Linked DNA regions of Homo sapiens: regions 2 and 3 are each linked to region 1. The links come from fine-mapping of genetic effects on gene expression. A gene starts in region 1. Each other region holds a variant in brackets. All regions are shown on one strand. Distances are between the middles of the regions. Region 1 holds the start of LINC02705 (long intergenic non-protein coding RNA 2705). Region 2 has its middle 7.5 kb from the start of MS4A2. Region 3 has its middle 30 kb from the start of LINC02705.

Region 1 (4,252 bases):
AAAAAATTGTATATATCGATTTTTATCAAAAGCTTTGTCTGCATACCTCTGTTGAGATTAACAAAGTCTTTTTTTCTTATTTGATGTGTTTCTGCAGTAAGTGATTTTCGAAGATTTTCTATTGTCAAATTATATATGAATAACTGGAATGAGTTCAATTTGGCCATGACCAAATGCTTTAAAAATACATCTTCCTATTCTATTTGCCACTTTTATTTTTCAGTTTCTTACATCTATATATATGAGGGAGAGTGATTTATAATTTCTCATTATCACACTGCTTATATTAGTTTTCTATTGTGCCTGTAACAAATTACCACAAGCTTTGTGACTTAAAACAATACAATTTTATCTTAGAGTTCTGTGGGTCAGGATACAACACTGGTCTCACTGGGCTAAAAATCAAGTTATCTACAGAACTACTTTCCTCTCTGGAGCTTCTAGGGAAAAAAATCCATGACCTTGCCTTTTCTAGCTCCTTGAGGCTGTCTCATTCATTGACTCATGGGCTTTTTCAAGGCTGGCAGTGGCAGATCATGTCCTTCTCATGTTGCACCTCTGACTATTCTTCTATCCTCAATTCTCTCTTAGACTTACCTGGGAAAGGTTCTCCACTTATAAGGACTCTTATTATTACATTAGAATTGCCATAATTCTCCAGGATAAACTCTGTGTTAAGATCAACTGCTTAGCAAACTTGATTCTATCTGTAACTTTTAAAATCATTTGCCAGATATCATAGCATACTCTCAGATTCCAGGGAGTAGGATGTGGATAACTTTGGGTACTATTATTCTTGGTAACATACTGCCTTTTTTGATGTTGTTATTGCAGAAAATAGAAGAAAAATAACAACTGTGTCCTGGCCGACACTGGCTGGGAGCTCATTGTCAGTAGACATGTGGTGAGGCAATGAGTCATAACCAACGTGGGTTTCTTTTTGTCCCATGAAAGATTTGGTGTGACATGAGCTGATGAAAAAGAACTTAATTCAAGTAATAAATTTATTTCTATTTTCACAAATTTGGAAGTTTTAAAATGGTACCCTGTTTCCTGGTTCCTTGAGAAGTTGTGGGGTTGAAAGGTGGGAAATCAAATGCATAATCAGCATCAGCATTACATTAAAGAGTACACGTGCAGGTTTGTTACATGGGTACATTACATGATGCTGAGGCTTGAGGTCCCAAAAATCCCATCACCCAGGCAGTAAGCATAGTACCCAACAGGGGCTCTTCAACCTGTTCCCCTCTCCCTCCCTTCCCCATCGAGTGAGTGGTCCTCAATGTCTATTGTTCCCATCTTTACATTCATATGTATTCAATATTTAGCTCCCACTTGCTAGTGAAAACAATGCAGTATTTGGTTTTCTGTTCTTCCGTTCATTTGCTTAGGATAATGGCCTCCAGTTCCATCCATGTTGCTGCCAAGGACAAGCTTTCATTGTTTTTTATGATCGCATAGTATTCCATGTTTTATATGTACCACAATTCCTTTATCCAATCCACCATGGACAGGCCCCTAGGTTGATTCCATGTCTTTGCTATCATGAGTAGCACTGCAATGAACATATGTGTGCATGTGTCTTTTTGATAGAATGAATTATTTTCCTTTGGGAAAACCCAGTAACAGGATTGCTGAGTCAAATGGTAGTTGTGTTTTTAGGTCTTCTAGGAATCACCACACTGCTTTCCACAGTGGCTGAACCAGTTTCCATTCCCACCAACAGTGTGTAAGTGTTCTCTTTTCTCCACAGCCTTGTCGGCATCTGTTGTTCTGTGACTTTTTAGTGATAGCCTTTATGACTGGTGTAAGATGGTATCTTATTGTGGTTTTGATTTGCATTTCTCTGATGATTCATGATGTTGAACATTTTTTCATATTTGTTGGTTGCTTGTATGTCTTCTTTTGAAAAGTGTCTGTGCATGTCCTTTTCCCATTTTTAATTGGATTTTTTTTTTTTTTTTTTTTTTGGTTTTTGCTTAAGATCCTTGTAGAAGCTGGATATTAGACCTTTGGCAGATGTATAGTTTGTGAGTACTTTTTCTCATTCTTAGGCTCTCTGTTTACTGGTAATTTCTTTTTTTGTTTTTTTTTTTTTTTTTTTTGAGACAGACCCAGGCTGGAGTGCAGTGGCACGATGTCCGCTCACTGCGAGCTCTGCCTCCTGGGTTTGCACCATTCTCCTGCCTCAGCCTCCTGAGTAGCTGGGACCACAGGTGCCCGCCACCATGCCCGGCTAACTTGTTTTTGTATTTTTAGTAGAGACGGGTTTTTTTTTTCTGGAAATACACATAAAAATCTAGAAATATAACACATTATAGAAATACCACAAGACCACATATCTGAGGGGAAATTAGAACCCTCTGTGGGGTTACTGTGCTGAGTTACACCCTAACAAATCTATCCCCAAAGACACCTTATAAGAGTGAACAGGACTTGCTAACCTAAATAGGTGTAGAGCTAGCACTACTCCAGGGAAGTGGAAATAGCAGCAAGTCAGCCAGGAAAAACAATAGAGGTGTAAATGAAGGGAATAATTAGGACACTAGAGCATAACCATCATCAACACTTGCCTTGTATCCTCATTTCGGAAGAACTGCTGAATGCTGGATATGAAAGCTAATGTCTTTGAGAGTCAGTGGACAAGTCTGTAACAGGGACATGCATCTATGCAAAAGCGACAGTGAGACTAACTCACGGAAGGGTATTGTGGAAAGTGGTGTCTTTACCATTGTTCTTTAATGGTCTGGTCCATGTGCCATGGATAACTAGTTTTCCTTGTGTTGCATCTAGCTGGGACTGGACAGAGAAACAACATCATATTGTATCCATGGAGATAGTTGAAAGTGCTGTAAAATGACATCCTGCAGTTGTTTTGTTTTGTTTTTGGTAAAAGCCTATCTAGTGATATCTGGGAGATATATACATATATATATACACACACACACACACATATAAAGATACACATATATATGTATATATACACATGCATGCTCACACACACACACACACACACACACACATATATATATCCAGGTATAAAGTGACATCTGTAATTTACCAATGAGTGGCCTCCAGTCACCACACTTAATTGGGAACATGTTTTCCATGGCAAAAACACAATTCTGTTGCAAAGAAAGAGAAAATTATGCTGTAATTTAACCAATTACACACACAATAGTGTAATGAACATTATGTTAATATCTTTGACTCTGAAATGGGATATCCAAGAGTTTTCTGGTTGATCGACAGAACCAGATGAAAACCAGTTTCTCCCCTGGAATGAGAAAATATATGAGGAGGCTGATATAAAGGCCCAAAAGATATTTTTGTCCAGAAACAAAATGAGAATTTTGCCTTACAAAATTAAACTTGGAAGTAAATGTTTCTATTATCATGTGTCTTGAACATCCAAATAAGTGCTTACAATGGAGAAAAAAATCAGTAAGTTAAAAGACACATATATATGTATATAGATATGTGCATATATATGTAAACATACATATGTGTATAGATATTCACCTATGTAAATTCTTGTGGAGGAATCATAGAATTAACATGATTTGTAGAGGGAATTTAGAGTCCAAGTTGAATTGTTTAAATGTTAATGGATGTCAGGATGTTATTAGGCTTATTGTTTTGTTTCAAATATTACAAAATATTTTATAAGAAAAATCCTGAAAAGATTTTAAGAAGTCCTTGGCAAAAAAAAAAGAAAAAGAAAAAGAAAAAAATACCAAGATGAGAGAGTGGATTGGGAAAGTGTTAGTAGCAAACTGATTTTTGTTTGTTTGTTTACATGATGTCAATCTTTTGGTTCTATGAAACATTTTTCCTACTGCCTTAAATATGATACACAATAAATTAACATTTGCCAACAATATGGTATTTTTCTTGAATTTTTGGAAACTTCTGAAGCATTCACTAAGGAGTTACCATTTTACAAGGATGAGAAAATAGAGCAGTCCAGTTACTGTGGCATAAGAAAAGACTTTGTCATACCTGGGGTTACAAGTCTAATGAAATCACATGAACCGGGAGGAGAGTTTTTCAAAAAAACAGAAGTAATAGTCGGGAAAGTATATTAAATAATTACAACTGTTATGTGATAAGATACACAATAAGGATTTTATAAAATACAATATTATTAAATAAAATCATGTTTTTAAGAAGATCCCTAATTCAGAAGCACTCATAATTTATAGTTAGTTTTTATTACATGAAGCCAGAGAAACATGAGTCCTATTAACAG
Region 2 (4,252 bases), 83 kb after region 1:
TCAAATTGGAAAAAAGTAAAAGTAAAATTATCTCTCTTTGTAGATGGCATAATCATATATGTAAAAATCCTAAAGACTACATATACTCACACATGTGCACACACATACACTTTGAATAAATAAATTCTGTAAGTAGCAGAATACAAAAATCAGTGGTGTTGCTATACACTAACAACAAACTTCCTGAGAAGAAAATTAAGAAAATAATCTCATCTAAAATAGCATCGAAAAGAATAAAATACTTATGAATAAACTTAATTAATGAGGTAAAAGACCTGTACACTGAAAACTATGAAACACAGAGGAAAGAAATTAAACACAAATAAATAAAAAGACATCCATGTTCATGGATTGGAAGGCTTAATATTGTTAAAATTTCTGCACTACCCAAAACAATTTACAGATTCAAAGCAAATTCTATCAAAATGCTAATAGAATTGTTTACAGAAGCTGATAAAAATTCTAAAATTCACATGAAACCACAAAGGGCCCCAACAGCCAAAACAATCTTGAGAAAACACAAGGCTAGAGACATCTGCTGATTTCAAAATGTATTAAGAAACAACAGTAATTAAAACAGTATAATGCTGGCATAAAGACAGGCATAAGACCTACAGAACAAAAGAGCCCAGATACAAATCCACACATATATGGTCAACTGATCATCAACAAGGTTGCCAACAATACAGAATGAGAAAAGGAGTCTTTTCTACAAATGGTGCCGGGAAAACTAGATATCCTACATAATAGACTGAAATTGATTTTTATCTTACACAATATACAAAATTCAACTTAAAATGAATTGAAGAATTAACTGTAAAGAAGACCCAAAATTGTAAATCCCATAAAATAAAACATAGAGGAAGAGTTTCGTAACATTGAAGTTGGCAATAATGTATTGGATAAGACACCAAAAGCAAAGAAACAAAAGTAAAAATAGGTAAGTAGAAATAAATCAAATAAAAACTTTTTGCACAGCAAAGGAAACAATCAAAAAAATGAGGAGACAACCTATAGGATGGGAGAAATATTTGCAAATAATCTATCTGATAAGGGATTAACATCCAAAATATATAAGAAACTTTTACAACTCAGTAGTTAAACAATCAAACAAACAAAAACAATAACCCAATTTAAAAAGTAGGCAAAGTACTTGAACAGACATTTCTCCAAAAAAGACATACATATGGCCAATGGGTAGATGAAAAGATTCTCAACATCACTAATCATTGGGGAAATGCAAATCAAAGCCAAAATGAGATATCACCTCATCATACCTGTTAGGATGACCATTATTAACACATAAATAAATAATAAGTATTTGCGAGGATGTGGAGAAATTGGAATTCTTGTACACCGTTGGTGGGAATGTAAAATGGCACAGCAGCTATGAAAAACTGGAGGTTTCAGCAAAAATTAAATATAGAACTTCCATATGATCCATCAACCCTACCTTTCTATATTTAAGAGAATTAATACCAGGATCCCATGTTCATTGAAGCATTATTCAGAATAGCTAAGATGTGGAAACAACCTAAATATCCATAAATGGATGTGTGTTAAATACATACAATGGAATATTATTCAGTCTTTTTTTTTTAAAAAAAGGAAATCCTACCATCTGCAACAAAATGGATGAACCTGGAAGACATTTGCTAAGTGAAATAAGCCTGTCACTAAAGGACAAATACAGCATGATTTCATTTGTATGAGGTATGTAAATAGTCAAATTCACAGAATCCAAGAGTAGAATAATGGTTGCCAGTCCCTAGGAGAGAGACATAGAGAGTTGCTAATTAGCAGTCATAAAGTTTCAGTCAAGCAAAATGAATAAGCTCTAAAGATATAATGTATAACATTGCACCTATAGTCCATAATGTAGTGTACATTTAAAAATTTGTTAAGAGGACTGTTAAGTGTTAACTCATGTTAAGTGTTCTTACCGTAATAAAAAAATTATGAAGTTGTACACTATTTGTACATTTTTCTGTACCTTTCACATACCTCAATATAATGTATTTTGAATAAAATATCAATTTGTCTTTTCCTCTTTCAGGCATGTCCTATTATTTATGATCTATTACAAATTTTCATTACTATTTTCCATGGCAAGTATCTATTTAGCCACAATTTTTGTTTTTGTTATAATGTGGGTGGCTGGCTGGAGGTTTCCATGTTTGCTTATTCCCCTGCCCCAGCTTTTAAATATGTAATTGACACAGGTTGTATATATTTAAGATGTACAATGTAATGACTTGATAAACATATACATTGTATAATGACTACTATAATCAAATTAATTTACATATCCATCACCACCCATGTCATACCTTATGTATTAGTCTGTTCTCACACTCCTATAAAGAACTGCCTGAGACTGGGCAATTTATAAAGGAGGGAGGTTTAATTGAC[T/C]CACAGTTCCACATGGCTGGGAAGGCCTCGGGAAACTTACAATGATGGCAGAAGGGGAAGCAAATATGTCCTTCTTCACATGAGGGCAGGAAGGAGAAGTGCTGAGGAAAGAGGGAAAAGCCCCTTAAAAAACCGTCAGATCTTGTGAGAACTCACTCAGTGTCATGAGAACAGCCCCCTCCATGATTCAATTACCTCCCACAGGGTCCCTCCCACGACACATGGGAATGATGGAAACTACAATTCAAGATGAGATTTGGGTGGGGACACAGCCAAACCACATCACCTTAGAAACCCAGAACTTGTTAGTCTTTTTTTTTTCCTCCATTGGACTTTTATTTGAATGTAATATTTGGGACAGTTATTCAAAAGGACAAATATTTTCCAACTTAATCTAAGGTCATAATAAAACAAGCAACAAAACAGTGTTTGGGATTTCAATTTCTCACCCTTATAATCAGGACTCAATGCCTCCTGTCATCAATATTTATTGAGCATTTACAATGTGTGAGGCACAATAGAACATAGAGACAACATTGTCCCTGCTCTTGAGGAGATTACATTCTAAAAAAACAAAACAAAACAAAAAAATGCCTCTTTTAAAATGGTTGGTTTGGTGTTTTCTGCAGAGTATTGAGAAAATATTCTGTAGAGCGAACTTTGGATATAACTTTACCCCATCATTATTTAGAGAATAGAGGAAGAGAAAGAGGAAGGATTTTAAAGGCAGACAATGACAGAATATTCAGGATAGATAAGGTTTAAAGAGAGATAAACACAAACTAAGGAGAGGTTTGTTGCAGTAAATAGGATGAGGGAAATAGTTTATGGGATGCAGGCAAAGGAAGCAGAGTGTTTTAAACACTGAGTGGAGCCAGACAGATCATGCGGCCTTTTTCCAAGTAAACGGCCACCAAGTAGGAATGGTTGGTGACAAGAGAGAAGGCTAAAAAAGGAAGGTAATCTTGTGCTCCTGAAAAATAGAAAGAATAAAGGATCAAAATCAAAGGCAGCCTATAATAGTATCTATAAATTATTCTTAAAAAATCAAAAGTGATTTGGAAGCCCAAAACTTACAGTTAATGCTACCCAATGTCATGATGGACCAAGAACATTGTGGCTTCCTAAGTTAGAAAATGCTGTATATTAAAATTTAAAAAGGAACATATTACTTTTTTCCAATCAATCCCCTTCCACTAGAAAAAACAGAAACTCATTTTTTTCAGGGTGAGGAGGAGCAGAGGGGAACATGGGGCATGGCTGCAAACAGTAGTTATGTTAGTAGTATTTTTGCTATGATAAATTTTGTGTTTAAACTTGGTAAAATTTCATTAACTGCCAAGGGAGAATGAGGAATAAATTTCAAAAAATGGACAATTTCCTTTAGAGAAATTTCAGAATCAAAAGACTAATTTACATGAAAAGCTATAGAGAAAGCAGCTGGAAAGTCTATTTATACAGCGTTTATTCCACTTACATGAACATAATACATGTGTTATTAACAATTATGTTGGATTGTCCATAAAAATTTCATAAGATATGAAACAAAACTGTGCATCATGTCCAGTTACTTCTCTGTTAACTACTTTTACAGTACATGCATGTGAGGCAAGTATCAAAAAAAGGCATAAAAGAAAAAACACTTTAACAATTAAATACTTTTTTTTTAATTTTACTGATTTGCTTGATGTACATGAAGTAATGACTATCAAGCAATTCGCTTTTACTGCATCTTTACTTTTACATTTGTTCTTAGGTTGCCTAAAACATTTAAATACAAAGATAATGAGCGTAGCAAAAATACTGAAAGCAAACAGCAGTGAACTTTACAAATATGGAA
Region 3 (4,252 bases), 30 kb after region 1:
TGCAAGGGATATTTGGCCCCAAGACAGGACACACTCCAGCAATAACTATATTCTCAAAATCGTACTGTGCCACAGCAGCTTGGGTCTCAGGGAGTTGAAGGACACAATGTGAGTTTTCTGTCTGTAGCAATACAGCTGCATGATATTCAGGAAACTTCCTATATTAGGTTCAGGGCCTGTGAGGGCTGCAGGGCTCTCCTGAAGCTATGATTGCAAGCATCTGCTGTGGTAATAGGAACTACTGGGGATCTCCAGCTTACTTTTTTTCACAATGGAGTATTCCTACTGGCTTCAGACCAATCCTGGCAAGATGCTTTACTTCCCACTCTATGCTGCCATCCCAAGTGTGTATTCTTCAGAGGCTTTTTTATCCCTTCCTTGCTGAATTCCAGTGTTGGCCCTTAGTCACTCTACCTATAAAACAATTATTTATATGTTGTTTTGTTCCTTCCTTGCAGAAGAAACACATATTGGACACCTCTAGTCAACCATCTTGATAATGCCTCCTCTTATAATCCTTTTTATTTCTGTAAGATAGGTAGATATGTCTCATTTTCTTTTCTGATTTTATTATTTTTTTGCATTGTCTATCTCTATCAGTCTAGTTGAAATGTCAATATTGTTGATCTATTGAAGAACCAAGTTTTGGTTTTGTTGATTTTCTCTAATATTTTATTTTCTATTACATACATCTATAGTCTAATTTTTATTATTTCCTTCCTTTTATTAGTTTTGTGATTAATTTGTTCTTTTTCTAGTTTCCAGGATGTCAAGTTAGGTCATTTGAGAAATTTTTTTCTTTTTTTAATATAGGTATTTATGGCTATAAGTTTTCTTTCAGAGAACTGCTCTCACTGAATCAGATACTTTTTTAAAATATGAAAACATTCTATATTTAATTTTCACATTTCAGGTTTTAAAGAATAAATTCATAAGTATTAGTCTAATGCTGGCCTTATGCCCTTTTTATCATTTTATTATTGTTAAGTGTGCAATTTAGTGGCATTAATTACATTCACAATTTTGCATAACCATCACTATATTCAAAACCTTTTTTTCCACCTCAAGCAGAAACCATATCTATTAAATAATATTAATAATAATAATATGTGGGGATTATTACAATTCAAAGTGAGACTTGGGTGGGGACAGAGCCAAACCATATCATTCCATCCCTGACCCCTCCCAAATCTCATGTCCTCACATTTCAAAACCAGTCATGCCTTCCTCACAGTCCCCTAAATTCTTAACTCATTCCATCATTAAGCCAAAAGTCCAAGTCCAAGTCTCATCTGAGATGCGGCAAGTTCCTTCTGCTCTGAGCCTGTAAAATCAAAAGCAAGTTAGTTACTTCTTAGATACAACGGAGGTACAGGCATTGGATAAATACACCCATTCTACATGGGAGAAACTGTCCAAAACAAAAGGGCTGCAGGCCTCATGCAAGTCTGAAATCCAACAGCATAGACATTAAACCTTAAAGTTCCAAAATGATCTCCTTTGACTCTATGTCTCACATCTAGGTCATGCTGATGCAAGAAGTGGGCTCCCATGGCCTTGAGAAGCTCTGCCTCTGTGGCTTTGCAGTGTATGGCCACCCTCCTGGCTGCTTTCATGGGCTGGCGTTGAGTGTCTGCAGCTTTTCCAGGCATACAGTGCAAGCTGTCAGTGCATCTACCATTCTGGAGTCTGGAGGATGGTGGCCGTCTTCTCACAGCTCCATTAGGCAGTGCTCCAGTGGGGACTCTGTGTGGGGGCTCATACCCCACATTTCCCTTCCACATTGCCCTAGCAGAGGTTCTCCATGATGGCTCCAGCCCTGCAACACCCCTCTGCCTGGACATCCAGGCATTTCTATACAATCTCAATTCTTGACTTCTGTGCACTTGCAGACCCAACACCATGTGTAAGCCACCAAGGCTTGGTGCTTGTACTCTCTGAAGCAACGACCTGAGCTGCACATTGGCCCATTTTAGCTATGGCTGGGATGCAAGGGACCAAGTCTGGAGAATGCACAAAACAGCAAGGCCCTGGGCCTGGCACAG[A/G]GTACCATTTTTTCCTCCTAGGCTCCTGGGCCTGTAATGGGAGGGGCTGCTGTGAAGACCTCTGACATGCCCTGGAGTCATTTTCCCCATTGTCTTGGCAATTAACATTTGGCTCCTCCTTACTTATGCAAATTTCTGCAGCCAGCTTGAATTTCTCCCCAGAAAATTGTTGTTGTTTTTTTATTATTTTCTACTGCATTGTCAGGCTGCAAATTTTCCAAACCTTTATGCTCTGCTTCCCTTTTCAACATAAGTTCCAACTCCAAACCATATCTTTGTGAATGAATAAAACTGAATGCTTTCATTGGTACCCAAGACACCTCTTGAATGCTTTGCTGCTTAGAAATTTATTCTGCCATATGCCTAAATCATCTCTCTTAAGTTCAAAGTGCCACAAATCTCTAGGGAAGAGGCAAAATTCTGCCAGTCTTTTTGCTAAAGCATAACAAGTCACCTTTTCTCCAGTTCCCAACAAGTTCCTCATCTCCATCTGAGACCACCTCAACCTGGACTTCATTGTCCATATCACTATCAGCATTTTGGTCAAAATCATTCAACAAGTCTCTAGAAAGTTCCAAACTTTCCCACATTTTTCTATCTTCTTCTGAGCCCTCCAAACTGTTCCAGCCTCTGCCTGTTACTCAGTTCCAAAGTCAATTCCACATTCTGGGTTATCTTTACAGCAGCACCCCACTACCCGGTGCCAATTTACTGTATTAGTCTTTTCTCAGCTACTAATAAAGACATACTCAAGACTGGGTAATCTATAAGGGAAAGAGGTTTAAAGCACTCACAGTTCCACATGTCTGGGGAGGCCTCACAATCTGGGCAGAAGATGAAGGAAGAACAAAGGGACATCTTATATGATGGCAAGCAAGAGAGAGCTTGTGTAGGGGAATTCCCATTTATAGAACCATCAGATCTCATGAGACTTATTCACTACCATGAGAACAGTATGGGGGAAAACTGCCCCCATGATTCAGTTATCTCCACCTGTCCCCGCCCTTAACACATGGGGATTACTATAATTCAAGGTGAGATTTGGGTGGGGACACAGCCAAACCATATCAAGCACTATTTGAAATGTTTACCTGAAGAAGTCTTAATTATGTGTTTTCTTGAGAAGCCCTCTTCTAAATCTTTCTTTTTGCTCCCACTGTATCTTGCTTATTCTTCTGGGCCTAACCATGGCCTATTTGTCTTTTTCTTATCTCTGTTGAACTAACAGACAACTCTGATGCCTGGATGGAAGGATCATGTATATACAGGAGTGAACTAATATTGATAAATGATTTAGAAAACCTCAAACTTTCAATTGTTGCCTGAAGATACTGTTATAAATCTGAGAGGTGTTATTAGATACAGACTTTTACTTATTTTTTAATATCCTTTTCTGACAAGACTTGAGTGCAGGAGTAGAAGTGAAAATACTGAGTGATTATGTGTGAGAGAAAACTAGTCTTTGTTAACCTGAAATAAGCAAAAGGATCGCAATCCAGTTTTTAAAATTTGTTCAAGCAAAAAGTTGAGGATGGTCATTCAGAAGACAACAGACTTCAGATAAATGGGGTCAGTGTTCTGAAGTGAAAAGTTAACATCTCGCTTATATAGGCAGAAAACAAACAAGTTTAGTATAATTTTTCTATACAAGGCTGGTTTATGAGTTACAAAAATTTAATTATTACGGTTTGCTTTCTTTTTCATAGGGCTTGTTTTCTTTAATTTACAGCTGGTTTTTATATCCTTTCCAATTTAAAACAGCATATTTAATATTCCATCTTAAAACAGTGTGATAGCCATATCTTTGTGTAAGAAATGTAAGAAAAAAACTAAACTATAATGAAGATCAACAGTGAAGGGGGAAAGAGGTTTTCCTGGTGCCCTTTAGTCATTTTCAACATTTTACGAAGCAGTGAAGGTAAGGAACGAGGCTAATCTATAATCAGAGTAACAAAGTTTATAGCTGCCTAGGTTACAGCTGTCTGTCACATGACTCAGACTCCATAATCACATTCCTTTAAGGCTCAAAACAATTTAGAGTTTCAACAGCTTGGATTTTGAATTAATACTTATTTTAACATCTTCATTACCAATCAGTCATCAGCCCTCTTCCTCCTCAAAAGTTATATCTGCAGTAGTACCTTGTTTTCTAAAGCACTGCAATTCAAAGTAAAGTTGTTTTGTCTCCCGAGGCCCACAAAGAACAC

Evidence for each region. PIP is the estimated chance that this variant, and not a neighbour inherited with it, causes the effect.
Region 2: its variant is the best candidate, but not a certain one, in a credible set for the expression of LINC02705 in whole blood (TOPMed, PIP 0.63).
Region 3: its variant is the best candidate, but not a certain one, in a credible set for the expression of LINC02705 in whole blood (INTERVAL, PIP 0.66).

The regions. Positions count from the first base shown.
Region 1 is chr11:60,162,395-60,166,646 of GRCh38, reverse strand. LINC02705 (long intergenic non-protein coding RNA 2705) reads left to right here and starts at 2,247. Exons shown (of 4, transcript XR_950142.1): 1 at 2,247-4,252.
Region 2 is chr11:60,079,054-60,083,305 of GRCh38, reverse strand. It overlaps the pseudogene YWHAZP9. Among named protein-coding and RNA genes, the nearest start is that of MS4A2, 7.5 kb to the left of the region's middle. The variant T/C (reference allele first, on the strand shown) is at 2,413.
Region 3 is chr11:60,131,917-60,136,168 of GRCh38, reverse strand. No RefSeq gene overlaps it. Among named protein-coding and RNA genes, the nearest start is that of LINC02705, 30 kb to the left of the region's middle. The variant A/G (reference allele first, on the strand shown) is at 2,046.